Linked DNA regions of Homo sapiens. The protein of the gene in region 1 interacts with the protein of each later gene in a pairwise test. Each region holds a gene or a part of one and is shown in the gene's direction. Other genes may lie near its edges. The genes, in order: GJA1, NINJ2, TMEM128 and TJP1.

Region 1 (7,000 bases):
TTATTTGAAGAGATGTGTGGGAGCTTATCCGCACACACCAGTTCAACTCTGGAGAGAAAAAGTAATTATCTAGTGTTTATTATTAATGTAATATTCTGTATGGATAATTCAAGTTTTAAAAAATCTCCAGAGCATCTCTTCCATGGGAGATTAATGTATATATTTTTTAAATTCTTAGCATAATTGTCTAAACCTCCATCTAAAGTCACCTTTTAACTATGTATGTACAGATTGTCTTTTACCTATTTTCAAACTGTGGTTAGCTCTTTTTTTTTAATACATCAGTGGCTTATACAATTTCATAAATTTCACATTCCAATTTCCCTATGCTTTTAAAATAATATTTTAAGAAAAATATATGTTTATCGTCAGCTGGGCATGATGGCTCATGCCTGTAATCCTAGCCCTTTGAGAGGCTGAGGTGGGAGGATCGCTTGGGGCCAGGAGTTTAAAACCAGCCTGAGCAACATAGCAAGACCCCACCTCTATAAAAAAAAATTTTAAAAAGAAAATGTATGTTTGTCAATCATTTCTTAGTTGCTGTTTTGCTAAAGAAAAGATGAAAAATTTAAAACCAAATGAGCTATATCTAAAGGTCGTCTAAAGAGTAAGAACCAAACTTTACTGAGCTGTTACTAAGAGCATCACATGCATGAGTTATTTATTAAATTCTCATTGAAAAAAATAGACTATCTTAATCAATACACTTGTGAGGGCCCTAAGGGTGTCTTTATATGATTATAAAATAACAAGGCTATTCACTAAAAATAGTCAATTTGGAGGTGGAAGTAAGAGTAGGGGCAGAGGAAACGCCAAGGACTGATAGAAATATATTAAGTTACATCACAATTGAAGAACATGGCTTTTAGCCTCAGCTTCTGACTTGGGATTTTCTCTCTGGTAGCCCTAAATTGATCTTGAGAAACTTGTTTTGGGGGAGAATTGAGTAGTAGCTGTTGAACTAGGGAGAGGATTGTCTTTTATGGGATGCACCATCCTCTCTTTGGATGGAGTTCCTCACACCTCAATTCCCATCTCATCTCATTAAGTGGATGCTAATGTAAGTTCAGTGATGAGGAGGGGTAAGAGCTGGGGAAGGAAGGCTTGTTGGTGTTTTTATGTTGTCCTCCCCTCTGCCCCCAAAATAAGCAGTTCACAACATCAAATACCTACACAAATGTGCAATTATTTATAAATATATTTTTACATACAGTAAGTTTGATACACTATAGTTAGGCCATCTAGGTATAAATAAGGAAGTAAAGGTTGGGTATTATCTGATGAACTGGGAATCTTTTCCATGGTACTTGAATCTAATCACTTTAGTGCCTGCATAGACTCAGACTGTAAAGATGTTACATTAACCAGGGTTAATATCAACTGCTGCTCTTCCCCTTCAGAGCCCTAGCCTTCCCCGATATTTATCATTCTTGAAATAAACACGATTTTAAACAGGCTATTTCTTCTTGTAATAGTGTCCTTGTCTACAATAAAATTGTGTGGTGCAATCGGAGTTAGAACATCGTAGAACTAGGGGACAACCACACAGTTGTGTTTTTTCCTTTTTTTTTTTGTTTTGTGTTTTAAATCTTAACCTGCAACAACCTAACAGTGAACTGAATGTACAAGCATGATACCTGATGCAGTTCTACAAGAATCCTAACCCTCATTAGGATCTCATTTAACAAATTCAGGAAGCTCTTTGTTAAAAAGCCTTTTTTCTTTTTTCTTTTAAGCCTGTCAAATTTAGCAGTGGGGGTTGCAAAGAGCCTTTTTTCTTAATTTAGCTCTTTTGCCTGCTCAGGAATCATTTGAAGCATGTTGTTTCAACAAACAGTTCTCTGTTTCAGCAATTGTCACTTGAAAATTTAACAGTATGAGAATGAGATGATGACAATAGTTTTTTACTGTGAAGTTTCCTTTTTAATTAATTTGAAACTTTAGAAATTTGAGATATAACTACAATTAAGAGAATCCCAAAGAGACAGAAAAAAACAAACTTTTTTTTTTTTTTTGCACAGTATCTTTCTATTTTTTGTGGAAGCCCCATTTAATTCATTTAACATGTAGCTATACCCCAATTAATTAATTCTTTTCTTTTCTTTTCTTTTTTTGAGACGGAGTTTCACTCTATCACCCGGGTTGGAGTGCAGTGGTGTGATCTCTGCTCACTGCAGCCTCCGCCTCCCGGGTTCAAGCAATTCTCCTGCCTCAGCCTCCAGAGTAGCTGGGATTACAGGCACCCGCCACCACGCCTGGCTACTTTTTTGTTGTTGTTGTTGTTGTTGTTGTTGTTGTTTGTCGTTTTTTTCTTTGAGACGGAGTCTCGCTCTGTCGCCCAGGCTGGAGTGCAGTGGCGCGATCCCGGCTCACTGCAAGCTCCGCCTCCCGGGTTCACGCCATTCTCCTGCCTCAGCCTCCCGAGTAGCTGGGACTACAGGTGCCCGCCACCACGCCCGGCTAATTTTTTTGTATTTTTTTTATTTTTAGTAGAGACGGGGTTTCACTGTGTTAGCCAGGATGGTCTCTATCTCCTAACCTCGTGATCCGCCCGCCTCGGCCTCCCAAAGTGCTGGGACTACAGGCTTAAGCCACCGCACCCGGTCTACTTTTTTGTGTTTTTAGTAGAGATGGGATTTCACTATGTTGGCCAGGCTGATCTCAAACTCTTGACCTCAGATGATCCTCCCACCTCGGCCTCCCAAAGTGCTGGAATTACAGGTGTGAGCCACATCTCTTACTCTTTCAAGCACTGGGGATACAGCAGTGAACAAAGCAAACTCCCTCGTATTGTTCACATTCCAGTTAAGGAAGACAAATAATAAATCCTTCTCATGGAAGGAGGTACATAGTAATCAGGCAAATATTTACTATATCAAGTAGAGAGAAAGTCTATTAAAATAATAATTTTTTAAAAACCAGGGCAAAGGGAATAGGAAATGACAGGACTGGGGAAAGGATGTTGCTATTTCATATTTGGTGGTCAGGAAAGTTGGCTGATGAGGTGAGACCTGCAACAAGTGAGGACGTGAGCTGCGTGGATGGAGCAGAGCTCATCAAACCAAGCTGATTGTTGGTTTGTTTTCTCAAGATTGACTGATTACTCGGAGTATAGGTTGGCAAGTAGGGTGACCAGGCTAATGACATGAAACCTAGCAAACTGATGATGGCTGAGATCAAGCTAAGGGTGGCTGTTTTAAGTGCGGAGGAATAGACAACTGAGTTCACTCAATGACATTTACTGGAGGGGCAGAGGTTATTATAAAAGTGAAAGAAAACATTACAAGGGTTTGCATTTGAGTTTTTGGGCATGAATATTTTTGGGTGTTAGTACATTAGACACACACATGATTTCCCTTTCCTCCCAAAAAATCCATTAAATGATTTTATCGGGAACTTCCATAGACATTTCCTTATGTAGGTTTAGACTCTGATTTTATTCTTTCAGATATTAAAGTCCTTCACCTTCTCTTTTCTTTCAATCATAAAAAGATGCTGGATATCAAATTTCACTTTAGTTTTCAATAATCCTATTTACCTTTATTTAAGTCTCCATTCTCAACTCATTACATTTGTCTCTTCTTGAGAAAAATATTTAAAGTCGATAGTAAAATACTTAATTCTAATAACTATTAGTATATTAATGGCATGGAAAGACTTGACTGCAACTTCGGCACATGCTCTAGCAAAAGGCATAGTCAAATGTAATTTAAAATCAAAGCTTTATTTTTAAGAGATCTCATTTGAATTAAAGCGTTTAAGTTCTTCTGCTCTCAGGGAGCTGCAGATGGAGATGTAAGGAGTGACAAGGGGCTGTGGAGCCAAGGCTGACCTCAATGCCGGGTGCCCAGAGAGCTGCTGCTCCTGGTACTCAGCCCCTTGGATTTTTTAGACTGTTCCTTCTGCTTTCCTGACATTTCTCCCACTCCTAAATATTTTGAACAAGAAAGGGCCAGAAATGTCAAGAATAGTAACAAACACCAAAAAAACCTTACTTCCTAGGCCCCACCTCCAGAAATTCAGATTCATTCAGACTGGTGAAGACCAGGAATGTATGTTTTTAACAAATGCTGCCAAGTGACTGTGATGCAGTTCAGGAAAGGGGCCAGAGGAGCCTCAGGCTGGTCACACTTAGTGCCTGTAGCTTTGGGCATCCATCCAGTCTAGGGGGCCATGAAGAGCAATGGAAATGTAATCTAACATGGTGCATAGACGGCAAAAAGCGTGGTCCAGCTGCTAAGACTCTGCTCTTAACAAGAACTTTGCACAACTCCTCTTAGACAGACCTTGGTCTACATATAAAGCACCAACTCAGTATCCTAGAGGTGAAGGCATGAATATATGTGATATGTCCAGCTGCGTTGGTCTTCTCATGTATCAAATAAGAAATATACCTGTTTCCCCCTGGTGAATAAAAGTGCAGTTTATAGTCTGTAGATCAATGCCAGGGATTCTGTAAACATATAATTATGCCCTTTTATTATAAGAGGGTATTAACTTACCATACAAGACTTGGAAAAATGAAGATATTAAACTAGTTTGGGAAGGTGCAGCAGGGAGGAACAACCAGTTGCCAAAATTTGATTCATGGCAAAGTGAGCAACTACCAAAAAAAAAGGGAACAATTTTTGTTACCTGTTTTTGGGCAGCTGTCACATTAAACATTATTTGATGGTATCTATGATAGTGGAGATCGACAGGTAGCTACATGTTACAGGATACTCGGTGTCCAATTCGATAATTCGTATCTTATTAAGATGAAAGAGTATAACTCATTAATGCAAATGACAACTGCATGGGTGCTTAAAGAAAAGACAACTTTGCAATTAAGTTACTAGAGTATTAAAAAAGAACTAATGAAGAGCTGTCTGATGACTTAGTTCACATACTATGGAACTGTGGAGTGTTTTTGTAGAATCTCAAAATTATATGAAAGTCATGTATCATGAATTTTTTTATAGAATGTAAATAAAGACTATACTTTCAGGGATCATTTCTATAGTTTGTTACTAGAATGTAAATAAACTTAGTGATGAATTACTATAAGCATCTACACAATCATATTTTACTTTGAGTAATGATGAAATCCTAGCTAAAATAACTTCTGTTCTGCCTGGTCATATTTCTAGATATGATAGGTTTGTCTTCAGCTCTATCGTTGCATGAATGTGATGAGATGTATGCAAAGTTTATCTTTTTATACTTGATTGTTTTTGTTATTTTTCCCCTAGCAATTGAAATATGTGAGCAAAAGCAGATGACACTGGCAAAATACTGTAATTTTTTACAAACAGAATTAGGGCCAATTTTACACATCATCACATAGAAACTGTCTATTGATATAGCTCCAAAGATTCTGTTTGTCTGACCCTCATGGACTATACTTCTTCATTTCCAGTCTAGTATTTTCTGCTAAATTGTAGGGTTTTTTTTTCTTTCACATTCTCTCACCATCAAACTGTCCATCACGGCTAAATTACTCCCTCACTTCAAGCCTTTCCTTGGCTATTCAACTGTCTTTGTCAGCCTTTCAAGCCTTTGTTCTTATTTGACTGCTGTTTTAAATTGATGCTGTTTTCATACATCAATTTCACTTCCTAACTTGTCACTTCAGAATCTAAAATGACCCTTCCTAAGTAAAAGGGAAGCTCCCTTTCTTATGACCACTGGGGGAGTGTTATTTCTGTGGCCTTCACACCCACCTCCCACTCTTACTCAGCATTCTTTGGCACTAGTCCCTGGGCTGTCATCAAATGTACCCATGATACCGTGGTACCATCTAGCTGGTGCATAGTTTAGCTTTATGGCTCAGCCATCTCTTCTTTGTTCGGTCCAGGAAATCCCAGGTCAGGTGCCCATTTCATTTTTTCTTGTTCTCTATGGCCAGAAGATGCAGTCATTAGACAGAAATGTAATGTTGCTTACTGAGGAAGAAGACTCCCCTGGATTTCATTTACTTCCTACAAGGAGATACAGCTCAATAGTTCAACACCAGAAGAGAAACTCCTTTATATTCAGATAGTGAACATATTTCTAAGAAGCCTAAATAATCCTACCTTTAGATACTCTATTTAGAATTCATTACTAAGCTCCTGCAAAGTCTTAGCTTTGCTTGTTTTTAATTATTAAACAATCTTTGACTAATTTGTCCTTTTCTAAATCCTCCAATTACTACTATGTGCTGAAAATTAGCCTATATTCCCTATGCCTGCCACATCATGTTACTCACTTCTTCCCAGCTTTCAGCCCTGGCTAAGGTTGTGTATATCAAAGCCTGGAAACATTTCTAGCTTTAGCGCAGCCTTACTGTACTTTTAAAACCAGTGTGAGGCATTGAAAAGACTTGCCCGGGGATTGTGAATCTTCTTCTGGCTCTGTCTATAGCTAAATATTTCCTATACCCTGAGAACCTCTGAGAACCTCAATTTTTATCAGCTAAATGGATAATCGGCAATTAGAAGCATAAATTGAACTAGACAACTTTGGGGATTCTTGTTGGTTTCTACTGACTTACATCTTTTTAGTGAGACGGAGTCTCTCTTTGTCACCCAGGCTGGAGTGCAGTGGCGTGATCTCTGCAAGCTCCGCCTCCCGGGTTCAAGCGATTCTCTTGCCTTAGCCTCCCGAGTAGCTGGGACTACAGGCTCCCACCACCACACCTGGCTAATTTCTTGTATTTTTTGTAGAGACGGGGTTTCACCATGTTAGCCAGGATGGTCTGAATCTCCTGACCTCATGATCCACCCGCCTCCCAAAGTGCTTATAGGCGTGAGTGCATTATAGGCGTGAGCCACCACGCCTGGCCAGATCTTTTTCTTATCCTCAGTAATGGAGAAGGCGTGGACTTTAGATAGCTAGATATTGATAAGAAGTTAAATGGGATGTATAGCCTGAGGGTCCAAAGCCCAGTAAGGGAACTTTAAAGTATATAACAATGAAAGATGAAAACCAATCTTTTCTGGCTGGAGAAAACACCCTGAAGTAGGTTTTGTTTGTTTGT
Region 2 (8,229 bases), on another chromosome or scaffold:
ATTGTTTGAAGCCAGGAGTTCAAGGTTGCAGTGAGCTACAATCATGCCATTGCACTCCAGCCTGGGCGGCAGAGCCAGACCCTATCTCTAAAAACAAAACAATAACACTCTTTAGTTAAAACAATGTTTCCCCAAAATGTGGTACAATTATCACCAATGGGTGGTAAAGGTACATCAATGGCTGACAGCTTTTTATTATAATGTTTATTTTTACAGTTTTTTTTGAGATGGAGTCTCACTCTGTCGCCTAGGGTGGAGTGTAGTGGCAAAATCTCAGCTCACTGCAACCTCCGCCTCCTGGGTTCAAGTGATTCTCCTGCCTCAGCTTCCCAAGTAGCTGGGATTATAGGCATGTACCACCACACTTGGCTAATTTTCATATTTTTAGTAGAGACAGGGTTTCATCATATTGGCCAGGCTAGTCTTGCACTCCTGACCTCAAATGATCCACAAGCCTCGGCCTCCCAAAGTGCTGGGATTACAGGTGTGAGCCACCATAGCTGGCCATCTTTATAGTTTCAGTATTCATTAGAAAGAGCATAACAGGGCCGGGCTAGGTGGCTCACGCCTGTAACCCCAGCACTTTGGGAGTCTGAGGTGGGCGGATCACGAGGTCAGGGGTTGCAGACCATCCTGGCCAACATAGTGAAACCCTGTCTCTACTAAAAATACAAAAATTAGCTAGGCGTGGTGGTGTACGCCTGTAGTCCCAGCTACTCAGGAGGCTGAGGCAGGAGAGTTGCTTGAACCTGGGAGGCAGAGGTTGTGGTGAGCGGAGATCGTGCCACTGCACTTTTGAGACTCTGTCTCAAAAAAAAAAAAAAGAAAAGAAAAAAGAAAGAAAGCATAACAACTTATCAGACCTGTGATTCCTTTTTTTTTTTTTTTTTTTTTTAACAGACAGGATCTTGCTGTGTCACACAGGCAGGAGTGCAGTGGTGCAATCTTGGCTCACTGCAGCCTTAACCTCCTGGGCCCAAGTTATCCTCCTGCCTCAGCCTCCTAAATAGCTGGGACCACACATGTGCACTACCATGCCCAGCTAATTTTTTTTTTCTTTTTTTAGTGATTGGGGTCTCACTGTATTGCCCAGGCTGGTCTCTAACTGCTGGTCTCAAGTGATCTTCCTGTCTTGGCCTCCCAAAGTGTTGGGATTACAGGCATGAGCCACATGTCCAGGCAATTCCAACATTTTTATTGCTTAGGATGAGCCTCAAGTAAGTGGCAGGAAGTTTTTTGACACCTTTATACAGTCCTTGCACATGACCTGGGCATACCCTCAATGTCTTAGTAACTGTTTCTGTCTGACCTGTTCAGAAGTACGGCAGCCCTGGGTGACATGGATCACAGGTGTGTGTGCCCGCACCTACTACTGCACTGAGACGTTGAAACCCTGAACATGGCACAACTGAAGTTTGGGAAACTCTAATCTAAAATAACATTAACTTGAGCCTCTATAATCAATGTTGCAAATGTATCTCCAGGTCAAGACCTGTGAGACTGGGATGGGTAGCAGCAGCACAGCTGGCTGTGAAGAGTGGCGCACAGCACTCAGGGCAGGTGGCCTCCACCAGCTGGATGCCTGGAGCTGCTCCTTCTGTTCTATGGCCTGTGGCTGTGGCCTCCAAGCCTCTGCCCTTCTCCCTGCCTTCACTGGTAGCCCTGCCAGGGAGCTAAGCCTGCGCATCTCCCAGAGTCTGGATGTGTGAAAGGTTGAGGATAATCCCTTTCTTCCCCTTCGAGCCAGTGTTGCAACCCTACCCCCAAGTACAGAGTTTAAGCCCCTAGCCTGGCTCCTTCCCAAAATGCAGCTCCTCTTGGGCTTCCAGATTCCCCAGGCAGATCCAGTTATTGGCCCCTTTTTTTCCACCTGTGCTGCATGTTGATGGAAATGTGAAGATGATCTGCCAAAAGAGGAACTAAGACTTGTCCAAACCGAATGCAAATTCAGTATAGCTCAGGTTAAGTAGAGCGAGATACAGATAGAATGAGATGGGAGTGGAGGTAAAAACACTTATGAATAGAAGAAGGTCTATAGGCAAAGTACTCTGGGAGTGTTTTTGTTTGTTTGTTTGTTTTATTGTTTTTAAAGACATATATATATATAAGCAGTTATATATTATATATATATTATATATAATATATAATAGCAGTTATATATAGAGAGAATAGCAACTATATATGTAATAGCAGTTTTAGGTTCATGGCAAAATGGAGAAGGAAGGCCAGAGATCTCCCATATAGCCCCTTGCCCCACATGCATAGACTCCCCATTATCAACTTCCTCCACCAAAATGGTACATTGTTTTTTTACAACCGATGAGCCTTACATTGACACATCATTATGACCCAAAGTCTACAGTTTACATGAGGGTTCACTCTTGGTGTTAAACATTCTATGCGTAATAACATGTTTCCACCGCTATAGCATAGTATAGTATAGCATAGCATAGCATTAGCATAGCATAGCATAGCATAGCATAGCATAGCATAGCATAGCATAGCATAGCATAGCATAGCATAGCATAGCATAGCATAATAGAGAAGTTTCACTGCCCTAAAAATCCTCTGCATTCTGCCTCTTCATTGCTCCTTCCCCTCTGAACCCCTAGCAATGACTGACTTTTTGTTTTGCCTTTTCCAGAGTGTCACATAGCTGGAATCATACAATATGTAGCCTTTTCAGATTGCCTTCTCTCACTCAGTAATGGCACTGAAGTTTCCTCCATCTCTTTTCATGGCTTGATAGCTCATTTCTTTTAAGTACTGAATAATATTCCAGTGTCTGGATGTACTACTGTTTATTTTATTCACCTACCGAAGGACATCTTGGTTGCTTCCAAGTTTTGGCATTACGTATCATTCTGTATAAAGCCACTCAGCTGGGCGCAGTGGCTCACACCTGTAATCCCAGCACTTTGGGAGGCCGAGGTGAGTGGATCACTTGAGGTTAGGAGTTCGAGACCAGCCTGGCTATCGCTAACATGGTGAAACCCCACTTCTACTAAAAATACAAAAATTAGCCAGGCATGGTGGCAGGTGCTTGTAATCCCAGCTACTCGGGAGGCTAAGGCAGGAGAATCGCTTGAACCCGGGAGGCGGAGGTTGCAGCCAGCTGAGATCGCACCACTGCACTCCAGCCTGAGTGACAGAGTGAGACTCTGCCTCAAAAAAAAAAAAAAAAAAAAAAAAAAAAGCCTGTGTAGGTTTTTGTGTAAACACAAATTCTGAATTCATTTGGGAAGATACCAAGGATTGCAATTGCTGGATCATATGGTAAGAGTGTGTTGAGTTTTGGAAGAAACTGCCAAACTGTCTTCCAAAATGGCTATACTGTTTTGCATGTCCACCAGCAATGAATAGGTGTTCCACATTCTCATCAGCATTTGGTATTGTCAGTGTTCTGGATGTTGGCCATTCTAGTAGCTGTGCAGTGATATCCCATTTTTGTTTTAATTTGCATTTCCCTAGTGACATAAGATGTGGAGAATCTTCTCATATGCTTATCTGCTACCTTTGCATCTTCTTTAGTGAGGTGGCTGTTCAGGTTTTTTGCCCATATTTAGTGGGGTTACTTATTTATTTATTTATTTTTTGAGAAGGAGTCTCGCTCTGTCTTCCAGGCTGGAGTGCAGTGGCCCGATCTCAGCTCACCGCAACCTCTGCTTCCCGGGTTCAAGCGATCCTCCTGCCTCAGCCTCCTGAGTAGCTGGGACTACAGGCATGCGCCACCATGCCCCGGCTAATTTTTGTATTTTTAATAGAGGCGGGGTTTCACTATGTTGGCCAGGCTGGTCTCAAACTCCTGACCTTGTGATCCACCCGCCTCAGCCTCCCAAAGTGCTGGGATTACAGGTGTGAGCCACTGCGCCCGGCCTTATTTTCTTGTTGTTGAATTTTAAGATTCTTTGTCTGTTTTGGATAACAACTGTTTATTAGATGCATCTTTTGCAGATATTTTCTCCCAGTCTGTGGCTTGTCTTATTCTGTTGACATTGCCTTTCACAGAGTAGAAGTTTTCAATGTTAATAAAATCCAGTTTATTATTTCTTTCATGGATTGTACCCTTTGGTATTGTATACAAAAAGTTGTAAGCATATTCAAGGTCATCTAGATTTTCTCCTATATTATCATTTATGAGTTTTATAGTTTCGCATTTTACATTTAGGTTTATAGTCCACTTTGAATTAATTCTTGTAGAGGGTGGAAGGTCTGTGCTTAGATTCATATTTTTACACGTGGATGCCCGGTTATTCTGGCACCATTCGTTGAAAAGACTATCTCTGCTACATCGTATTGTCTTTGTTCCTTTATCAAAGATCAGTTGGGTCTATTTCTGGGTTCATTATTCTGTTCCATTGATCTATTTGTCTATTCTTTGTCCAAAACACATTGTCTTAATTATTGTAGCTTTACAGTAATTTTTTTTTTTTTTTGAGACAGAGTCTTGCTCTGTCACCCAGGCTACAGTGCAGTGGCGCAATCTCGGCTCACTGCAACCTCCACCTCCCAAGTTCAAGCGATTCTCCTGCCTCAGCCTCCCGAGTAGCTGGGATTACAGGGGCCCGCCACCACATCTGGCTAATTTTTGTATTTTTAGTAGAGATGGGGTTTCACCATCTTGGCCAGGCTGGTCTCGAACTCCTGAACTTGTGATCCACCAGACCCTACCTCCCAAAGTGCTGGGATTACAGGTGTGAGCCACCATGCCTGGCCGCTTTACAGTAATTCTTCAAGTCGGGTAGTGTCAGTCCTCTGACTTTGTTCTTTTCCTTCAGTATTTTGTCACCTATTTTGGGTTTATTTTATTTTATTTTATTTTTAGACAGAGTCTCACTCTGTCTCCAGGCTGGAGTGCAGTGACGTAATCTTGGCTCACTGCAACCTCCGCCTCCTGGGTTCAAGTGATTCTCCTGCCTCAGCTTCCCAAGTAGCTGGGACAACAGGTGCCCACCACCACGCCCAGCTAATTTTTTGTATTTTTAGTAGAGATGGGGTTTCACCATGTTGGCCAGGATGGTCTCGATCTCTTGACCTCATGATCCACCCACCTCAGCCTCCCGAAGTGCTGGGATTACAGGCGCGAGCCACTACGCCCTGCGGGTCTTTTGCTTCTCTATATAAACTAACTATACAATTAGTTTGTTGATATTCACAACTGATTTTGATTGGGATTGTTTGAATCTATAGTGAGTCCTCTTATCCATAAACATGGAATATCTATCTATCTATTTATTTTATATTTATTTATAAATTTATTTATTTATTTATTAAGATGGAGTCTTGCTCTGTCACCCAGGCTGGAGTACAGTGGCACAATCTCAGCTCACTGCAAACTCCGCTTCCCAGGTTGAAGCAATTCTCCTGCCTCAGCCTCCTGAGTAGCTGGGATTACAGGTGCGTGCCACCATGCCCAGCTAATTTTTGTATTTTTAGTAGTGACAGGGTTTCACCATGTTGACCAGGCTGGTCTCGAACTCCTGACCTCAAGTGATCCACCCGCCTCAGCCTCCCAAAGTGCTGAGATTACAGACGTGAGCCACCGCGCTTGTCCCCTTCATTTATTTAGTTCCTTGATTTATTTAATCAGTTTTGTAGTTTTCCTCATAATAGATATTGTACATATTTTGTTAGATTTATACATAGGCATTTCACTTTTTTAGGTGCTAATGTAAATGGTAGTGTTTTAAGTTTCAGATTCTACTTGTTCAGTGCTGTTTCATAGGAAAGTGATTGCATTTTATGTATTAACCTTGTATCCTGCAACCTTGCTATAATTGCTTATTAGTTCCAGCAGATTTTTGGTCAGTTCATTTAGATTTTCTACATAGACAATCATGTCATCTGCAAACAGAGATAGTTTTATTTCTTCACTCCCAATCTGTAGTCCCTTCATTTCCTTTTTCTGAAGGAACTACATTGCATTTACTAGGACTTCCTAGCAAAGACTGGGAAACTGCTAAGACTTGTTCATACTGAATGCAAATTCAATGTATGAAGCAGTGGTGACAGGAGACATCCTTGCCTGTTTCTAATCTTAGTGGGAGTGCTTCTACTTTCTTATCATTAAGTATGATGTTAGTTATAGGCTTTTTGTAGATATTCTTTATCAAATTGAGGAAATTATCTAGTGTACTGAGAGTTTTTATCATGAATGGGTGTTGAATTTTGCCAAATACTTTTTCTACATCTATTAATATGATCATGTGATTTTTCTTTTTTAGTCAGTTGGTGTGATTAATTACATTAATTGATTTTCTTTTGTTTTTATTTTATTCTCTTTTTTTTTTTTTGAAATGGAGTTTGGATCTTGTTGCCCAGGCTGGAGTGCAATAGTTGATCTCAGTTCACTGCAACCTCCACCTCCCAGGTTCAAGTGATTCCCCTGCCTCAGCCTCCCGAGCAGCTGAGATTACAGGCGGGTGTCACCACGCCCGACTAATTTTGTATTTTTAGTAGAGACAGGTTTCTCCATGTTGGTCAGGCTTGTCTTGAACTCCCAACCTCAGGTGATCCACCCACCTCGGCCTCCCAAAGTGCTAGGGTTAAAGGCGTGAGCCACTGCACCTAGCATTAATTGATTTTCAAATGTTGAACCAGTCCTGCATACCTGGACTAAACCCCAGTTGGTGTGGTGTATAATTCTTTTTTTTTTTTTTTTTTGAGACGGAGTTTCACTCTTGTTGCCTAAGCTGGAGTGCAATGGCATGATCTCGGCTCACCGCAACCTCTGCCTCCCGGGTTCAAGCAATTATCCTGCCTCAAGGTCCGGAGTAGCTGGGATTATACGCATGTGCCACCATGCCCGGCTAATTTTTATATTTTTAGTAGAGACGGGGTTTCTCCATGTTGGTCAGGCTGGTCTCGAACTCCTGACAGGTGATCTGCCCACCTCGGCCTCCCAAAGTGTGGGATTACAGGCGTGAGCCACCGTGCCTGACCCCATCCATTTACTTTTAATCCGTATGTGTCTTTTTTTGTTTGATACAAGGTCTTACTCTATCACCCATCACCCAGGCTGGAGTGCAGTGGCACCATCTTGGCTCACTGCAGCCTGAAATGCCTTGGCACAAGCAATCCTCCCACTTCAGCCTCCCAAGCAGCTAGGACTACAGGCACAAACCACCACACCCAGCTATTTTCTTATTCTTTGTAGAGATGGGGTCTCACTATATTGCCCAGGCTAGTCTTACTCCTGGCTTCAAGTGATTTTCCCATTTCAGCCTCCTAAAGTGCTGGGTTACAGGGGTGAGATACCACACTCAGCTGATCTATATGTATCTTTATGGTTAATGTGAGTTTCTTGTAGACAACATACAGTTGAGTCTTCTTTTTGTGTCCATCCTGACAATTTCTGCCTTTCAATTATGCACTTAGACCATTGACATTCAAAGTGATTACTGATATAGTTGGATCTACCACATTTGTTACTGTTTTTCTATTTGTTACCCTCATTCTTTGCTCCTATTTTTGTCTTCCACTTTTTTTTTTGCCTTTGGTGGTTTTAACTGAGCATTTTATATGTTCCTGTTTTATCTCCATTCATAGTGTATCAGTTGTACTTTTTTTTAACTTTTTTTAGTTATTGCCCTGGAGTTTGCAGTTTACAAGTACAACAAATCCAAGTGCACTTTCAAATAACACTATACCATTTCATGGATCGTGTGAGTACCTTATGATAACAAAACAATCCTAATTCCTCCATCCTGTTCCACGTATCATTGCTGGCATTCATTTTACGCACATATATGTATACATATATATGTGTATACATCATAAAACATATACATAAGTATACATAATCAAATATATTGTTGATATTTTGATTTGTTCATTTTGAACAAACTGTTAGATCAATTAAGTATAAGAAACAAAATATGGCTCACGCCTGTAATCCCAGCACTTTGGGAGGCAGAGGCGGGCAGATCACGGGTCAAGAGATCAAGACCATCCTGGCTAACAAGGTGAAACCTCGTCTCTACTAAAAATACAAAACATTAGCCAGGCATGGTGGCGGGTGCCTGTAGTCCCAGCTACTCGGGAGGCTGAGGCAGGAGAATGGTGTGAACCTGGGATGTGGAGCTTGCAGTGAGCCAAGATCGCACCACTGCACTCCAGCCTGGGTGACAGAGCAAGACTCCATCTCAAAAAAAAAAAAAAAAAAAAGAAACAAAATATTACTTTGTATATCACAAATGTATGAATTTTTTTCTTTTTCTTTTTCTTTTT
Region 3 (8,790 bases), on another chromosome or scaffold:
GCAAGCCCATTCCAACTCTCTTCATCACATGGTATGAGAAGTAAGAAACAAAACATAGGTATGAACGTATATTGAATATGATCAAACTTAAAAGGTAAACAAATTGGAAAAAAAGTAGACTTGCCACATATTTGAGGTTCAAAGACAGACAGCCTTGATCTATCAAAATATGCAAAAATGAAAATTCCAAAAGGAAAAAGACATATGCATAGTCGATTAACATAAAAAAATCTGTTAGCAAAGAAAAGCAAATTAAAATGGCAGTTCGCCCCGGCCAACAACTATCACTTGGGAAAAATTTATCAAAATGATAAAGCCCGCTGTTGGTGCAAACATTGAAGATGGCCTCTCCTGCCCTCTGCTGGTGGGAATTTAAACTACAGTAGTATGGTAAGTCCTTTCTGGACCTTCTTTGAAAATATCAATCAAAAGTCTTTAAAATGGCCAGGCGCCGTGGTTCACTCCTGTAATCCCAGCACTTTGGGAGGCCGAGGCGGGCGGATCACAAGGTCAGGAGATCGAGATCATCCTGGCTAACATAGTGAAACCCCGTCTCTACTAAAAATGTAAAAAATTAGCCTGGTGTGGTGGCGGGCGCCTGTAGTCCCAGCTACTCAGGAGGCTGAGGCAGGAGAATGGCGTGAACTCGGGAGGCGGAGCTTGCAGTGAGCAGAGATCGCGCCACTGCACTCCAGCCTGGGCAACAGAGCGAGACTCCGTCTCACAAAAAAAAAAAAAAAAAAAAAAAATCCCGTCTCTACTAAAAATACAAAAATTAGCCGAAATTAGCCGGGCATGGTGGCATGCGCCTGTAGTCCCAGCTACTCGGCAGGCTGAGGTAGGAGAATTGCTTGAACCCAGGAGACAGAGGTTGCAGTGAGCTGAGATCATGCCACTGCACTCCAGCCTGGTGACAGAGCAAGACTCCATCTAAAAAAAAAAAAAAAAAAGTCTTTAAAACGTTTGTATCTTTTGATCTAGGGATTCCAATGCTATAGCTTTTACCAGGGGAATAATCACAGCTGTGTAGAAATAGGCACACATTTTATTGTGTTTTTATACAATCAATGGAAGAACTTTTTAAAACTAGCTTTCTTCTTGGAATGAAGAACAGTATCCTAAATGATAGATATTAACATTCACTGAGCACTTTCCATATGCCAGGTACTTTTCTAAGAGCTTTACCTGTATTCTCATTCCTGGAGGCGCTCACAGAATACCTGGGGACCAATGGGGCAGCTACACAGCACAGTGAGAGAACAGGGTGGTACTGGTCTGGCCTCAGAGTTTCAAGTAACAGAAAACAACTGAAATTAAAATTAATTTAAAAAAGGGAAAATTTAACCATCTGTAAAGTCTCAGCAATGGATAATAACAGCTAAGATTTACTGAGAGTTTTCTATGGGCTGCTCTAAAGACTTCGCATGTATTAATACTTTTAATCTTTACCCAATCCTGTGAGGTGGGTATTATTCTTAACCCCATTTTGCAAGTGAGGAAACTAAGGCAAAGAGTGGATAAGATGCTTTCTCAAGGTTCAAAGAGTCAGTAATGACAGGACCGGCAATGACAGCCAGGCAGGCAGCTAGCTCCAGAGCTCAGTTCCTTAACAGGATTAACTAAGGCTTGGCTAGATCTGGGAGGCGGCGCAATGCTACCAAGACCTCTTAGCTTGCCTCTCAGTGCTTCCTTCCCACGTGGGCTCCCATTTCCAGAACAGCAGCCCCAAGCCCAAACTGACCTCAGAGCTCACCATATCAAAGCAACCGTGAACATCTTCCCAGCCTAAGACGTGGAGGATGAGAGGTCTGTTTTGGGTCTTGTGCCCTCCCCTAGGACGGGGTCAGTCTCTGGGATCTGAGCAGGACCACTATAGAAAGCAGCAGTGGTTTCTCAGAGGTAGGCAGACACATGTATATCCATATTGAAGACAAGTTAGCTGTGCTCAAGGACCAAAGTAAGCACAGCTAATGGAGTTCCTGCCGTGTGCTCGGTGTTTGCAAGGTACTGGGGGATACCAAGACATGGTTGTTTCTCCCAATCAACTGGGGGAAACACAGGGCAAAAGGAAAATAACAATAAAGCTTGGTAATTCTTGGAAGAGAGACATGAATAGAGTCACTGGAACCCAGGGACAAGGGAACACTGATCAAGGGGCGAACAGGTGCCGGATCTTGAAGGCCTGGCAAGCCAAATTACTAAGAATAGTAACTACTGCTGTTTGGAGGCAAACTATGTATGCCAGGCACTAAGCTAAACAATCTGTATACATGTATCTTCACTCCAATACCCGATGTTTCACAGATGAGCAAACTGATACTTAGAACAATAAAATAACTTGCCCAAAGACCCACAGTGATGGAGGCAGGATTTGACAGTCTATACACACCTTGGATTTAACTATGTTGCTAAGGGGGGGCCAGTAAAGGTCACAATGAAATTCATTTGTTCCCCACAAGTAATCCACATTGAAAATGAAAATTTCTTAATTGGTAGCAAATCTGGTATCACATATCTATCTATAATTAGGGTGCCACAGTACACACATTGAAGGGTTTCTTTTCTTTTCTTTCTTTTTTTTTTGAGACAGAGTTTCACTCTTGCTGCCCAGGCTGGAGTGCAATGGGTGGTCTTGGCTTACTGCAACCTCCACTTCCTGGGTTCAAGCCATTCTCCTGCCTCAGCCTCCCAGGCAGCTGGGATTATAGGCGCTTGCTACCATGCCCAGCTAATTTTTTTTTTTTTTTTTGTATTTTTAGTAGAGACGGGGTTTCACCATGTTGGCCAGGCTGGTCTCAAACTCTTGAGCTGAGGTGCCACCTGCCTCAGCCTCCCAAAGTGCTGGGATTACAGGCATGAGCCACTGCACCTGCCCAAAGGGCTTCTTTAATGGACCTCAGAAATGAAGATGTGGTCATTAAATACTGGAATTTTTCCAACCTCCTTTTAAGTATCATCAATATGCTGTGCAAGTAGTGCCATTTAAAATTGCAGAGAAAAAAACTCTGGAAGGATTTCAGATCCAAATTCAAAGGCCCCGAAACCACAAAAGGAGAAACCTGATCTGACCTGAACATACCATGTATGGGAACCTGGGATAGCGGCGATGCTCTTGGGAGTATTCAGTTACCACGGAGGCCCTGCACTGACCCTTTTTCGAGGAGACAATCAACAGAAGATTGTATTTGATGGGACAAATTCACTTCCTGTTAACAAGGCTTCTAACCCCGTACGAGAGAGAAGAGAGGGCAAAGACTTCAGTTGACTTTGAATAAATGAATCCAGTTCTTTAGGAGTCTTGAAAGAAAAAAAAAACAGAAAAAAAAAAACAGGATAAAGGAGGTATTGTTTAGAAAGGCCATATGATCCACCCAGCTGTTAAATCCTGTGCTCCGAAGGGGGAAGAAAGGCTGAAGAAATGATAAATCAGTAGGGATTTGGTATTTCTCTCTTTTTTTTAATTTTTTTTATTTTTATTTTTGAGAGGGAATCTCACTCTGTTGCCCAAGCTGGAGTGCAGTGGCAGGATCACTGCAGCCTCCTTCTCCCAGGTTCAAGTGATTGTCCTGCCTCAGCCTCCAGAGTAGCTGGGATTACAGGTGCCGGCCACCATTCCCGGCTAACTTTTGTATTTTTAGTAGAGACGGGGTTTCGCCATGTTGGCCAGGCTGGTCTCAAACGCCTGACCTTGTGATCCGCCCGCCTCGGCCTCGCAAAGTGTTGGGATTACAGGCGTGAGCCACCGCGCGCGGCTGGCACTCTTTTCTTGAGTATTTCTTATTACATTCCTTTTACAAACACCCCAACACATCGAAGATATTAAACAGTGCCTACTAATTCAAATTTTACTTCCTATGTAGCTGGCTCTCCACCCCTGTATTCAACTCACCTGAAACCACTCTCCCTGCTCTCCCACACTGCAGCAGAATAAACTGCCCTTTATATGTACAGTGTTTCTATTATGCCCCATGTACAGTGTTTTTATTATGGCACTGTATTGAAGCTGCTTCCTCTACTAGATTCTTCTGTCCTCACCATTTTATCACATGCAGCTGCTCAGAAAATGTTGGCTGCATTGATGAAATGCTTTCATACATTTACAAATAGAGTTTTCTTGTAATATACCTCTGTGGTTTTCTTTGGACAAGGAGCTCCTCACGTGCAAGGCCATGTCTTACTCATCTTTATCTCCACTGCTAGCATGGTGCCTAACAGCTCCTACCAAATAGTAGATGCTCAGTAAACGTTTGCGTGGCTAAGCCCACCATTTCTCAGCACATGACACGCTGGGAAACGGCTGGGAGAGTAATACGCGGGATTATTGACGAAGAAAAAGTTGTGAACTCGTAACACACAGTTTGTGGGCGTGAGCAGTGTGGAAAACCGCAGTTTGCTGGGAAAGCAATTTAGTTCCCTCGGTTCAGGCTGGGAGGATTTTTCACAAGTGGCGAGGAGGAGGCTCACATGAACCACATACAGGTACTTCTCACTGAAACGCACAACAAATCTAGAGCCAAGTGTAATAACGAAACGGGCCCCAAGAAGTTTATTTAATGCCCAGGGCCCCCAAGTGGTCACTGCCAGGCTCTAGCATCCTGTCCAGCAGGCCTTTCTCCTCCTTTCAAGTCTTGCTGGACGACTCCTGAAAAGCAAAAGTAGGAAAAAAACTGGGGGCTGAGAGTGGAAGGCTGGACAGAGGGTATGTCTCCTGCTCTGGCACCCGGAAGCCTGCGAGGGCTTCGGAAGCGCAGCGTCTCACGGTCGCGCATCCCGGCCCTGGACGCATCCAGCGGCAGCGGTAATCCTGGTCCTCCTGGGCTTCCGTAGGTCGGAATAAACTTGGGAACTCTTCCACCGGCAAAGCTCAGTGTTTTAAAATTCAAATCACACTTGCCGACATGAGAGCGGAACCTTTGAGGCCGACTCCACCCTAGCTGCTCGCTAACTAAACAGCGAAGAGAACACAGTCTCCAATCCAAACGCCAGGAGGTCCAGACCCGGAGCGGACGCCGGAAGCGCTGTGTCTGACGTCACTTCCGTCGCATTTCGGGGCGGTACCAAGATGGACTCCTCGCGGGCCCGGCAGCAGCTCCGGCGGCGATTCCTCCTCCTGCCGGACGCCGAGGCCCAGCTGGACCGCGAGGGTGACGCCGGGCCGGGTGAGGCGCGCACCAAGCCGCCCCGAGGTTCTCAGAGGCGAGGCGTCGGAAAACGGCCGGCCTCCGGCAGCCCTGGCCCAGTCTGGAAGGACTGAGTTTCGGCTTTGCAAGTCGAATATTTAATGTCAGGGAAGATCCTTAGAATCGCGGAGTGCTGTGCATCGTCATTTCAGCTGCGCTTCAGAATTCTCTGGAGAGCTGATTTGACACCTATTTGGAAATAGCGATTAAAATTAAAAATACCCACCAGTTTTAAGTCTTAAGGATTTACCAGAAACATGCGTGTACCGCAGTGTACAATGATGTGCGCAGTGTTTCACTTCAGGATTGCTTGTAATAGCGAATTACTGGAAATATCTGCCTTGCCCGTCAGCAGAAAGCTGTTTAAGTAAATTTGGGTATATGTATACCTGACACATCAGGTCGACTCGTATGTACCAATGGGGATGATTTTCAAAGGGAAGTGTGGAACACTATGGTATGCCGCCATTTGGGTACAAAACAGGTAACTTGTGATGTATGTTCACCTGTGAATGCATAGAATATGGAAGAATTCAGTAGAAATTGTAAGTGGTGGTTGCTTCTGGGGATTAGATCTGAGGTTAAGGATGGGAGACAGATACTTCATTTTGGATATTTTTTATCTCATATGTTTTAAAACCACGTCCATTTATTACCTTTTAAAATTAAAAACACGAATAACCTCATGCCCAGGCATGATGATGTATACATTTTGAGGATATCCCAGAATATTACGAACATGCTTCCCAGGGTTTCCGATGGTCATCTAAAGGCCCAAAACCTCAGATGTGGACCATTGATTCTCACGTGAACCTAGAGGGCATGTCAGAATCCCCGGAAAACTTAATAGAAATCATCCATCTGACCCAACCCCCATCCACCCATTCTTTCAGATTGCGTTCCAGACAGGAAAAATGTCTTGTCCATCACCTGTCTAGACAGTGCTGTGCTGGAACTAGAGCTCTGGTGTGCCGTTTCCACTTTTGAGCTGTGTTTAAAGTAACTAAAATATTTAGTTATAGGCTGGGCAGGGTAGCTCACGCCTGTAATCCCAGCACTTTGAGAGGCTGAGGCGGGCTGATCACGAGGTCAGGAGTTCGAGACCAACCTGGCCAAATAGAGCAGCCTGGCCAAGATGGTGAAACCCCGTCTCTACTAAAAATACAAAAATTAGCCCGGCGTGGTGGCAGGCGCCTGTAATCCCAGGTACTCGGGAGGCTGAGGCAGGAGAATTGCTTGAACCCGGGAGGCGGTGGTTGCAGTGAGCCGAGATCAAACCATTCCACTCCAACCCGGGCGACAGAGGAAGACTCCGACTCAAAAAAAAAAAATTTAGTTATAAAAGTGTTCTTGGAAGACCACAAGTCCAGTTCATGCGCTAATGTTTGCCTTTGGCATTTTTCCTAATTAACAAGACTAATTACTTTCCTAGAAGAAATGTGAAACATAATATTAAAATTCTTACATTTCCAGGTGACATTGTTATTTCCGAAAGACGATGAAAGTGTAAATTTGATTTCACAATGTATTTAGAGGAAATAAATTGACTGTATTGACCATATTTTATAGTGGGCTCTTATTTTTTGTAAATATAAACCTATCTCAAGGGTTTTACAGAAGGATTTGTTATCATGGGAGAGACTGTTTCTTAGCTCTAGGAAATGATTTTATTTGGCTTAAGTGTAATTTTTCCTCGCAAAATTGTGGTAACTTAATAAGTTGAAATCTCCCTTATTTGCAGAAACCTCCACAGCTGTTGAGAAAAAGGAGAAACCTCTTCCAAGACTTAATATCCATTCTGGATTCTGGATTTTGGCATCCATTGTTGTGACCTATTATGTTGACTTCTTTAAAACCCTTAAAGAAAACTTCCACACTAGCAGGTAAGAAAATTTTATTGCTTTGTAAATTAAACCCAAGTCTGATTTTTCGTGTTATATTTTGTTAGTTGAATTCTTCAAACAGTAAGCACCTACTACTCTCTGCCAGGCCCTGTGTTGGAGGTGTGGTGATACGAAGATGAATATGAGATGGGGGTCAAAGGGTACATATTTTTAGTTATAAGATGAATAAGGTCTGGAGATCTAATGTACATACAGTATAGTGACTATAGTTAATAAGGCTGTATTGTATACTTGAAATTTTCTAAGAGTAGGTCTTGTGTCCTCCCCCTGTTACCCCACCAGTGGTAACTATGTGAGGTGATGAGTGTGATAATTAACTTGATTGTGGTAATAATTTCACAATGTGTGTGTGTGTATATGTATACACGTATATATATATTCATATATATGTATATATGTATATATTCATGTGTGTGTGTATATATATATCAAGTCATCACACTGTATACCTTGAATATATAAAATTTTAATTTGTCAATTGTACTTCAATAAAGCTGGAAAAAATAAAACCAATGAGAGGGTGTGTGCTCTGGGCACATACAGTAGAGTGGAATAGAACTGGAAATTATTTGTGTGCAAATAAATGTGTTGTAGGATGAGGAAGGTAGTAAATTTAAGAAGAACCTAATCCATTTGGGGAAAAGAGGGAGAAAGACTGACTGAAGGTCTTCAAAGACCAAGTACAAGAGTACTGGGAGGAAGAGCCGAGAACTGTGGCCAGTGGGAATTGGGTCTCAGGGTTGGTTTCAGAGGGTGGTTACAGCTGACAAGGTAACTACAGGGTGTAACTGTGTTAGAGTGGAGGTGAAGGTCCACAGTGGGAGGAGTGACAGCTTTGTGGCCAGACCAGATGTCCAGTAGTTCCTCATTCACAGGGACTGAGATCCTTTCAGTATAGTCTCCAGAGTTGACATGGAGGAGAGGGTTGGAATCATATCCTAGGGTCCTTACTGCACATTGGAGAGTGATGTGGAGACCCTTGGATAAGAAATGGAAGGGAGAGGTATGTTGGTGAGCATCATGGCATTGGGAGGGCTGGTGTGCTTAGGGTCAAGAGTAATAATTTGGAAGTACCAGTGGGGGTAGGAAGATGCAGACAGGACTGTGGTCCCCTCGTATCATGGCAGGACACATGATTTCTCCTCAAGGGCCTTCAGGAGGAGCAGTGACTTCTGGCGGAGGAGACTGTCGAGCCACAAGGAAAAAGCCCACAGGGGAAAGTAGGCAGAGGGGAGTTTATTTAAACTGTCCTCTACTTTCTAGGGGAGAAACTTTCCCTAAACACTCCCATCTTCTGCCCCTCCATGTCACTCACTCCTTTGTGGGAGGTGGCGTGACTGATTGAGTGTGTGATGAAGAACTGGACAAAGGTAGCTCAGCACCTTCTTCTGCTGCAAGTCGGCTGCCCATAGGAAGCGCAGAGTCTGGTCTGCCTTCCCATGGTGTCATTCCACAGGGGCAGTCCCCACAGGAAAAGGTCTCTAGGTTTTCATTTTGACCTGGAACCCAGTGGGTAAGGCTGTTTCTGGGTGTCAGAGACCCAGTATTAGGAAGTGCTTTGTCATCACTCACCAAAGCCATATTCTTCCCACGGCTGCATCAGTATAACAGACATTTAATCTTCATCAGCTTGACTCAGTCATCTCTCTTAGAACTTGGGCTGGGAAAAGAGGGATGGATACTTTATTTTTATTTTTATTTTGAGA
Region 4 (8,229 bases), on another chromosome or scaffold:
GCAAATTTTCCAAACTTTTATGCTCTGCTTCACTTTTAAATATAAGTTCCAGTTTCAGATAATCTGTTTGTGCACACATATGAACACATGCTGTTAGAAGCAGCCAGGTCGCATCTTGAATGCTTTGCTATTCAGAAATTTCTTCCACCAGATACCCTAAATCATCTCTCTCAAGTTCAAAGTTCCACAGATCACTAGAGCAGGGGCACAGTGCCACCAGTGTCTTTGCTAAAGCATAGCAAGAATGAATGACCTTTACTCCAGTTCCCAGTAAGTTCTTCATCTCTGTCTGAGACCTCCACAGCCTGGACTTTATTGTCCATATCACTATTAGCATTTTGGTCAAAACCATTCAACAGGTCTCTAGGAAATTCCAAACTTTCCCTCATTTTTCTGTCTTCTCTTGAGCCCTCCAAACTGTTCCAACCTCTGCCCATTACCCAGTTCCAAAGCTGCTTCCACATTTTCAGGTATCTTTTTGGCAATGCCCTACTTCTCTGGTACCAATTTACTGTATTAGTCCATTCTCACACTGTGATAAAGAACCACCTGAGACTGGGTAATTTATAAAGAAAAGGTTTCATTGGCTCACAGTTCTGCAGGCTGTACAGGCTTCTGCTTCTGGGGAGGCCTCAGGCAACTTACAATCGTGGCGGAAGGGGAAGGAAGCATGTCTTATATGGCTGGAGCAGGAGGAAGAGAGTTGGGGAGGTGCTGCACACTTAAAAAAACAGATCTTGGGAGAATTCTATCACAAGACTGTGTGAGGGAGATGGTGCTAAACCATTAGAAACCACCCCCATGATCCAGTCACCTCCCACCAGGCCCCTCCCCCAACACTGGGGATTACAATTCAACATGAGATTTGGGTGGGAACACAAATCCAAACCATATCAGTTGTTTCCTAAACATAAATATATTAGCTCTTATTCAACTTTTGAACTGTTGGGTTTATTTCATAGGTATTCTTCCATGTGCTATTCTGTCAGTGTGTCCTTGTTTCTGTGAGCTTAGTTTGGTAACATTCTCCCTCTTCCCCTTGCTTAAAAGGGCTGAAGAGCTAGTGAGTAGGTTTTATAAATCTGAGCAGTGTCAGAGTTTCTTCGTTGTCTTCCAGGGCTGGGCCCTGGAGTCTAACTTTGTCCTGGCTTACCGGCCACTGTTTCCTTCATCCATGCCCTTCAGATCTCAAGGGGTGCTCCATGTGTCTGCGTGTGTGCTTGTACAATCTTCTTGACTTTTCCTTACCAGAAGTTTCAAGAAGTAGATGTGACTTCTCCAGAGAAAGATATCCTTTTCAATCTGCCTTGTACGATAAAGGCCATCTCTTAAAGAACTACTGAATAAAATTTGTAATTTACTTTTATTTGACCCAGGCGGATGGTGCTACAAGTGATGACCTTGATTTGCATGATGATCGTCTGTCCTACCTGTCAGCTCCAGGTAGTGAATACTCAATGTATAGCACGGACAGTAGACACACTTCTGACTATGAAGACACAGACACAGAAGGCGGGGCCTACACTGATCAAGAACTAGATGAAACTCTTAATGATGAGGTTGGGACTCCACCGGAGTCTGCCATTACACGGTCCTCTGAGCCTGTAAGAGAGGACTCCTCTGGAATGCATCATGAAAACCAAACATATCCTCCTTACTCACCACAAGCGCAGCCACAACCAATTCATAGAATAGACTCCCCTGGATTTAAGCCAGCCTCTCAACAGGTAAGCAGCAAGCATTCAACGTTTTGTAGATAGAGGTGCATTATTAAATTTTAGAATGTGGTGATTGAGTTAAAAATATATATGTTGTCCTTTCTCCAGATTAAGAATTAATCTTCAATTTCAATTTGAGAGTACCAAGGGCTTAATTCTAAATTTTGTGTGTTTGTCTTAACACAGCAATGTACTGGATTTTTTTTTTTTCCCAAAAAGTTTAGGACATGAGGTCATAATTTTGTTATTCAGCACACTTAAAATGTATGTCTACCAATCACTATAAATTGAAGTGGAAAGTTAGCAGTAAACAGAAACACTATATTTAAAATATTTTAAACACTTCACAGAAAGCAGAAGCTTCATCTCCAGTCCCTTACCTTTCGCCTGAAACAAACCCAGCATCATCAACCTCTGCTGTTAATCATAATGTAAATTTAACTAATGTCAGACTGGAGGAGCCCACCCCAGCTCCTTCCACCTCTTACTCACCACAAGCTGATTCTTTAAGAACACCAAGTACTGAGGCAGCTCACATAATGCTAAGAGATCAAGAACCATCATTGTCGTCGCATGTAGATCCAACAAAGGTACCTGTGCTGCGGTGTTGCACTAATTTGTTGCTGTCCATCAATCTGGCACATGATCATTTTTGCTTTGCCCTTTAAGTGTTCCTTTTGCTTTTTTACTGCAGGCTTATACACTGTAATGCTTTCAAATCAATACAAATCATTTCAGTTTCGTAGTTTGCATGGCTTCCATTGGTATACTGATTATTTGAAAACAGGCCTTTTAATTGAGATTTGTGCTTATTATTTTTATTTTTGGCTTTCAGTATCTTCCAGAATTCCTTAATATGTAATCGAAACCCATCATAAACATATTTATGTTAATACAAATTATGATGCCCATAAATCTTCTTTAGGATTTTTCAGTGTCAAAATGAAGTGTAATCAATAGTGCATTAATTTTCTACTAAATTTAATATTTATCTTTAACTCACTGTTTATTTAGTACATGCTGAAACATAAAAGCCCCTACCTGCATTATAAATTTTGAGCTTTCACTTAAACCAGCTTTTTCCACTAATCTTGTCTATCCTGATAATAAATGGTAAAACATACCATTTTCACATATTAAATCGTAGTTTAATATTTAATCACAGTCTAATAAAATAGACTAGAATTAGAAACAAGACTTTGTCCTTAAATGTGAATTTTTTATACAGGTGTATAGAAAGGATCCATATCCCGAGGAAATGATGAGGCAGAACCATGTTTTGAAACAGCCAGCCGTTAGTCACCCAGGGCACAGGCCAGACAAAGAGCCTAATCTGACCTATGAACCCCAACTCCCATACGTAGAGAAACAAGCCAGCAGAGACCTCGAGCAGCCCACATACAGATACGAGTCCTCAAGCTATACGGACCAGTTTTCTCGAAACTATGAACATCGTCTGCGATACGAAGATCGCGTCCCCATGTATGAAGAACAGTGGTCATATTATGATGACAAACAGCCCTACCCATCTCGGCCACCTTTTGATAATCAGCACTCTCAAGACCTTGACTCCAGACAGCATCCCGAAGAGTCCTCAGAACGAGGGTACTTTCCACGTTTTGAAGAGCCAGCCCCTCTGTCTTACGACAGCAGACCACGTTACGAACAGGCACCTAGAGCATCCGCCCTGCGGCACGAAGAGCAGCCAGCTCCTGGGTATGACACACATGGTAGACTCAGACCGGAAGCCCAGCCCCACCCTTCAGCAGGGCCCAAGCCTGCAGAGTCCAAGCAGTATTTTGAGCAATATTCACGCAGTTACGAGCAAGTACCACCCCAAGGATTTACCTCTAGAGCAGGTCATTTTGAGCCTCTCCATGGTGCTGCAGCTGTCCCTCCGCTGATACCTTCATCTCAGCATAAGCCAGAAGCTCTGCCTTCAAACACCAAACCACTGCCTCCACCCCCAACTCAAACCGAAGAAGAGGAAGATCCAGCAATGAAGCCACAGTCTGTACTCACCAGAGTTAAGATGTTTGAAAACAAAAGATCTGCATCCTTAGAGACCAAGAAGGATGTAAATGACACTGGCAGTTTTAAGGTAAATATGTCTTTAGTGCCTTGGATGCATGGGCACACCGTTTAAAAGGCTTCTTGGCTCTCCCCTCCGCCATTACATGATATCTATTCTGTTAATTATCTGTTCCTTAGGCATATTTGTCTTTTTTTTTTTTTTTTTTTTAAACAGCCTCCAGAAGTAGCATCTAAACCTTCAGGTGCTCCCATCATTGGTCCCAAACCCACTTCTCAGAATCAATTCAGTGAACATGACAAAACTCTGTACAGGTGAGTACACTTTGTGCTCTTTGTGGCATAGAACTGACCAGGAATTTAACCCTCTTAGTCAATAAGAAAACCTTTTACTGTGTTAGTAGAGGAGAGGTGTGAATAGGAGGAGTTTGTCCTTAAATAAAAACTATCAGCTCTCCTAAACAGTGATTCTAGGGGGAAAAAAAGTAGAACTTTATTTCTGACAAATCTGACAAATCTTTATACCTTTAGCAGACTTTCGGAAAGATATTCTCCAAGCAGATGATTAAATAAACATTTTTAAGCTCTGACATTTGTATTATGTTTTTTAGTTTTAAAAGTGCTTTTCGACATGTGAACTCTTAGTTTCCAGTGGTGAGGAAACAGACTCAGATTGGTTAAGATAACTAAATCATTTAGTGAGCATGCATAAGGTGCTTGCCCTTGTGCTAAGCACATCAGCATAATGAGGTGACACTGTTGTTGTTCTGCATTGTAGAGAGAGACACTGAGGCTGAGAGGGGCAAGTAGCTTACAAGACTTAGAGCTGGAAGAGAAACCTGGCCTGCTGCTCCTCAGCCTGAGCTTTTTCCCATGGCCTCATTGCACTGCCAATAAGTGACAGATTAGATTTGAATACAGCTCTTCTGATTTTGTTTTTTGACTGAATATATGTTTGCACTTAGGATAAAGAAGAGAACTGTCTAATATGAATTTACTTAATGACTTGCTTTCTTCCTCATCTGCTTTGTATGCCTTCTAGAACTTTAGACCATATAGAGTTATTTGTTCATATGAGAATCATTGAGATCCTGGACTGAGTTCTTAAAAATCCCTTTGAAAGTTCTTAAAGTCTATCATTTACTGTTCTTGACCTTGGTATATGTACTTCTCAAGATGTTCACTGTCTCGGTTACATTGCCCTTTGTCTTTCTGATTAACTACTTCTAACCTGCTGTTCCCTAATCATGTAATCGTTTAGCTTATTATATTGTGTTAAAGGACTCATGAGCCAGAAGGGGGCTGCCTTTTGAGTATACTCTGTGAGGACATGGGATTTGAAATATCCATTTTAACTGTTGGGACTGCTCAGATCCTCAGTAATCACAGCAGTTAGTAATTATTGACCTTTTAGTCAAGATAAGACTTACATATTCTACTTCCTTCATAACATTAATATTTAAAAAGGTGTTCCGTTTGTCATTCATTATCTGTTAGGATCCCAGAACCTCAAAAACCTCAACTGAAGCCACCTGAAGATATTGTTCGGTCCAATCATTATGACCCTGAAGAAGATGAAGAATATTATCGAAAACAGCTGTCATACTTTGACCGAAGAAGTTTTGAGAATAAGCCTCCTGCACACATTGCCGCCAGCCATCTCTCCGAGCCTGCAAAGCCAGCGCATTCTCAGAATCAATCAAATTTTTCTAGTTATTCTTCAAAGTAAGCTATTTCACCTGGCTTTTAAAAATAGGATGCAGCATATTAATCCCGTGCAGTTCAATATATTTTGAAGAAAAATAATTTAAGTGTAATATATGATTTCTGTAGGCTCTAGTGGTTCAGCATTGTACATACTTTTTAGTTCTGGGATGTGTGTTTTGTTTTTAAAGTCTGCTATTAGATGTACATAGTTTTTGCATTCACAAAGATGCTAACATCACAGGGTTTTGACGGAAGACAGTGTCAACCACAAGGACCCTCATCGATAGGTAATCATCAGTCTTCACTTCTGTACACACACCTAATGATGTCATGCTGGTTCTTTTTCTTTTCTGTTTTTATTTTTTAAATATAAATACAGATGTGAGGAGGATCCTGTTTGAGGGAAATACTGAAGAGGTTTTTTGTTTTTTGTTTTTGTAAGATTTCTGATCCAGTTTTACAGGTGAGGGAAAATGACAGGGCAGAGCTGGGACTGAACCCCAAGTTTCTTGACTCCCAGTCATCTTTTCCCTGTGCTTGCTGCTCCCCTCCGTTTACTCATCCCTGGGTTTCGTGTTGGTTTGTTCTCCTTTCTTGTGCCTGCGTGGGTTTGTGTCTCCTACTGGTTCTGTGTCTCTGGTTGAACCCTGACTGATAAGAGAATTTGGTACTGATAGTTGTGTCTAAGCCCACACGGGCACACAGGTAGATTCATACCTCAATAGAACAAAACCCACAAGAACAAAAACAGATGTGGATTTGTCAAAAGAAATTCATTTACACAGTTACAGGGGCTGGCTAAGCAAGTCCTATTTCAGAGGGCAGTTGGTCAGGAAGGGAAGATTTTGAGCTACTGGGGAGTGTGAGATCAGGGAAGGCCTAAATTCTCATTCAGAGGGCTCTGCTGATTAGGCCAGGCCCTCCCAAGACCATCTCCCCTCAACTGACTTGGGGACATTACACCTGAAAAATCCCTTCATGGCAGTACCTAGCCAGATTGACATATTAGAATTCATCACACATAGTATTGTGTCTATATTAAAAGCACCTAGATTTTTCCTTACTTAGTTGCGTGGGCTTGGGATTATCTTGGGAAATGACCTATTTGTCATTTACTATTGAGTGTAAATTGTTTTAGAACATACTTTAAAACCACTAACATTAAAACCTAATTTTAATTACCACTGCTTTTTTCTAAGACATCCTTTGTAGTGAAGACTTTTTTCACTGTCCTATATTTAAGGCTTTATGTTTACAGAAGAAAGCAGTTTATGAGAATCCAAATGCAAACTGAGAGTGCTGCAGTGGGGGTTGTATTAAATGCAAAACGTGTCTTGTACTAGTGTTGTGAACCACCCCTTAGCACAACACTAGAAAGGGGTTGTGGCATCTAGATGGTGTCTGGACTGAAGTGAGCTAGCACAATATAAACCCACACAGGTGCACAGCTGGGTTCATACCTCAACAGAACAAAACCCACAAGAACAAAAACAGATGTGGATTTGTCATTAGGAATTCATTTACATTTACAGTGTTACAGGAATTCATTTACACAGTTATCACAGTAACATCTAAATGGTGACTAGCCTAAAGTGAGCTAGGCACTGAGCCATAGGAGCTCACCTTTGGTAAGGCAGAAGGGTGTACCCTTTAGTTATTATTTTTACTAAACACCGTTAAACACATTCATTCCTGTCAGAAGAAGGCTCAGGTGTTTAGTTTAAAGATATCTCTTATTTATCGTTTTACATATTTGGTAAATAGAATACAACCTTAAAAAGATTATATGGCCAGGCGCAGTGGCTCGTGCCTGTAATCCCAGCACTTTGGGAGACCAAGGCAGGCTGATCATGAGGTCAGGAGATCGAGACCATCCTGGCTAACACGATGAAACCCCATCTCTACTAAAAATACAAAAAAATCAGCGGGGCGTGGTGGCGGGCTCCTATAGTCCCAGCTACTCGGGAGACTGAGGCAGGAGAATGGCGTGAACCCGGGAGACAGAGCTTGCAGTGAGCCGAGATCGTGCCACTGGACTCCAGCTTGGGCAACAGAGTGAGACTCTGTCTCAAAAAAAAAAAAAAAAAAAAAGGCTGGGCGCAGTGGCTCACGCCTGTACTCCCAGCACTTTGGGAGGCCGAGGTGGGTGGATCATGAGGTCAGGAGATCGAGACCATCCTGGCTAATATGGTGAAACCCTGTCTCTACTAAAAATACAAAAAATTACCTGGGCATGGTGGCAGGTGCCTGTAGTCCCAGCTACTCTGGAGGCTGAGGCAGGAGAATGGCATGAACCCGGGAGGCGGAGCTTGCAATGAGCCGAGATCGCGCCACTGCACTCCAGTCTGGGCGACAGAGCCAGACTCATCTCAAAAAAAAAAAGGAGTATATTTAGGTCTAAAAAGTAAGTTGTTTTGCCAGGGAATCAATCAAAATGCATGTTTGCTTTCTGTGTTAATTTGTTTTTCTAGAAAGAAGACTTAGCTTATTTGTGATGTATAACTTTAGGGTGTAGAACATTGCCTTGCATGCAGTAGGGGCTCAGTAATTGTTGAGTGAATGAAGCTCAAAACAGGGCATGGTATACTAGGTGCATCCACCACCCTTCTTTTCATTAACACAGCTCTGGAAGGAACCTGTATTACCTGGTCATTGTTTTCACAGGGATATATTGTGAAACAGATGACATCTGTCTTTGTGAATTTACTCAGAACTCAGTTTGATTTTACTCCCTGCTGCTGTGAGAGAGAAAAGTATAGTTTGGGCTGGATAC

The links.
Region 2: the proteins of GJA1 (region 1) and NINJ2 interact in binary tests that used the Homo sapiens proteins (3 or more experiments, as listed by UniProt).
Region 3: the proteins of GJA1 (region 1) and TMEM128 interact in binary tests that used the Homo sapiens proteins (3 or more experiments, as listed by UniProt).
Region 4: the proteins of GJA1 (region 1) and TJP1 interact in binary tests that used the Homo sapiens proteins (3 or more experiments, as listed by UniProt).

The regions. Positions count from the first base shown.
Region 1 is NC_000006.12:121,438,646-121,445,645, forward strand, and holds part of GJA1 (gap junction alpha-1 protein), read left to right. Parts: intron 1-4,971; exon of another isoform or gene 4,972-5,048; intron 5,049-7,000. UniProt on the Homo sapiens protein: Gap junction protein that acts as a regulator of bladder capacity. A gap junction consists of a cluster of closely packed pairs of transmembrane channels, the connexons, through which materials of low MW diffuse from one cell to a neighboring cell.
Region 2 is NC_000012.12:652,956-661,184, reverse strand, and holds part of NINJ2 (ninjurin-2), read left to right. Parts: intron 1-8,229. UniProt on the Homo sapiens protein: Its role in unclear. In contrast to NINJ1 paralog, does not mediate plasma membrane rupture (cytolysis) downstream of necroptotic and pyroptotic programmed cell death.
Region 3 is NC_000004.12:4,244,475-4,253,264, reverse strand, and holds the start of TMEM128 (transmembrane protein 128), read left to right. Parts: upstream 1-5,041; 5' UTR 5,042-5,062; coding exon 5,063-5,159; exon of another isoform or gene 5,160-5,639; coding exon of another isoform or gene 5,640-5,664; intron 5,665-6,921; coding exon 6,922-7,063; intron 7,064-8,790.
Region 4 is NC_000015.10:29,713,856-29,722,084, reverse strand, and holds part of TJP1 (tight junction protein 1), read left to right. Parts: intron 1-1,376; coding exon 1,377-1,727; intron 1,728-2,068; coding exon 2,069-2,308; intron 2,309-2,946; coding exon 2,947-3,819; intron 3,820-3,966; coding exon 3,967-4,064; intron 4,065-5,246; coding exon 5,247-5,474; intron 5,475-8,229. UniProt on the Homo sapiens protein: TJP1, TJP2, and TJP3 are closely related scaffolding proteins that link tight junction (TJ) transmembrane proteins such as claudins, junctional adhesion molecules, and occludin to the actin cytoskeleton.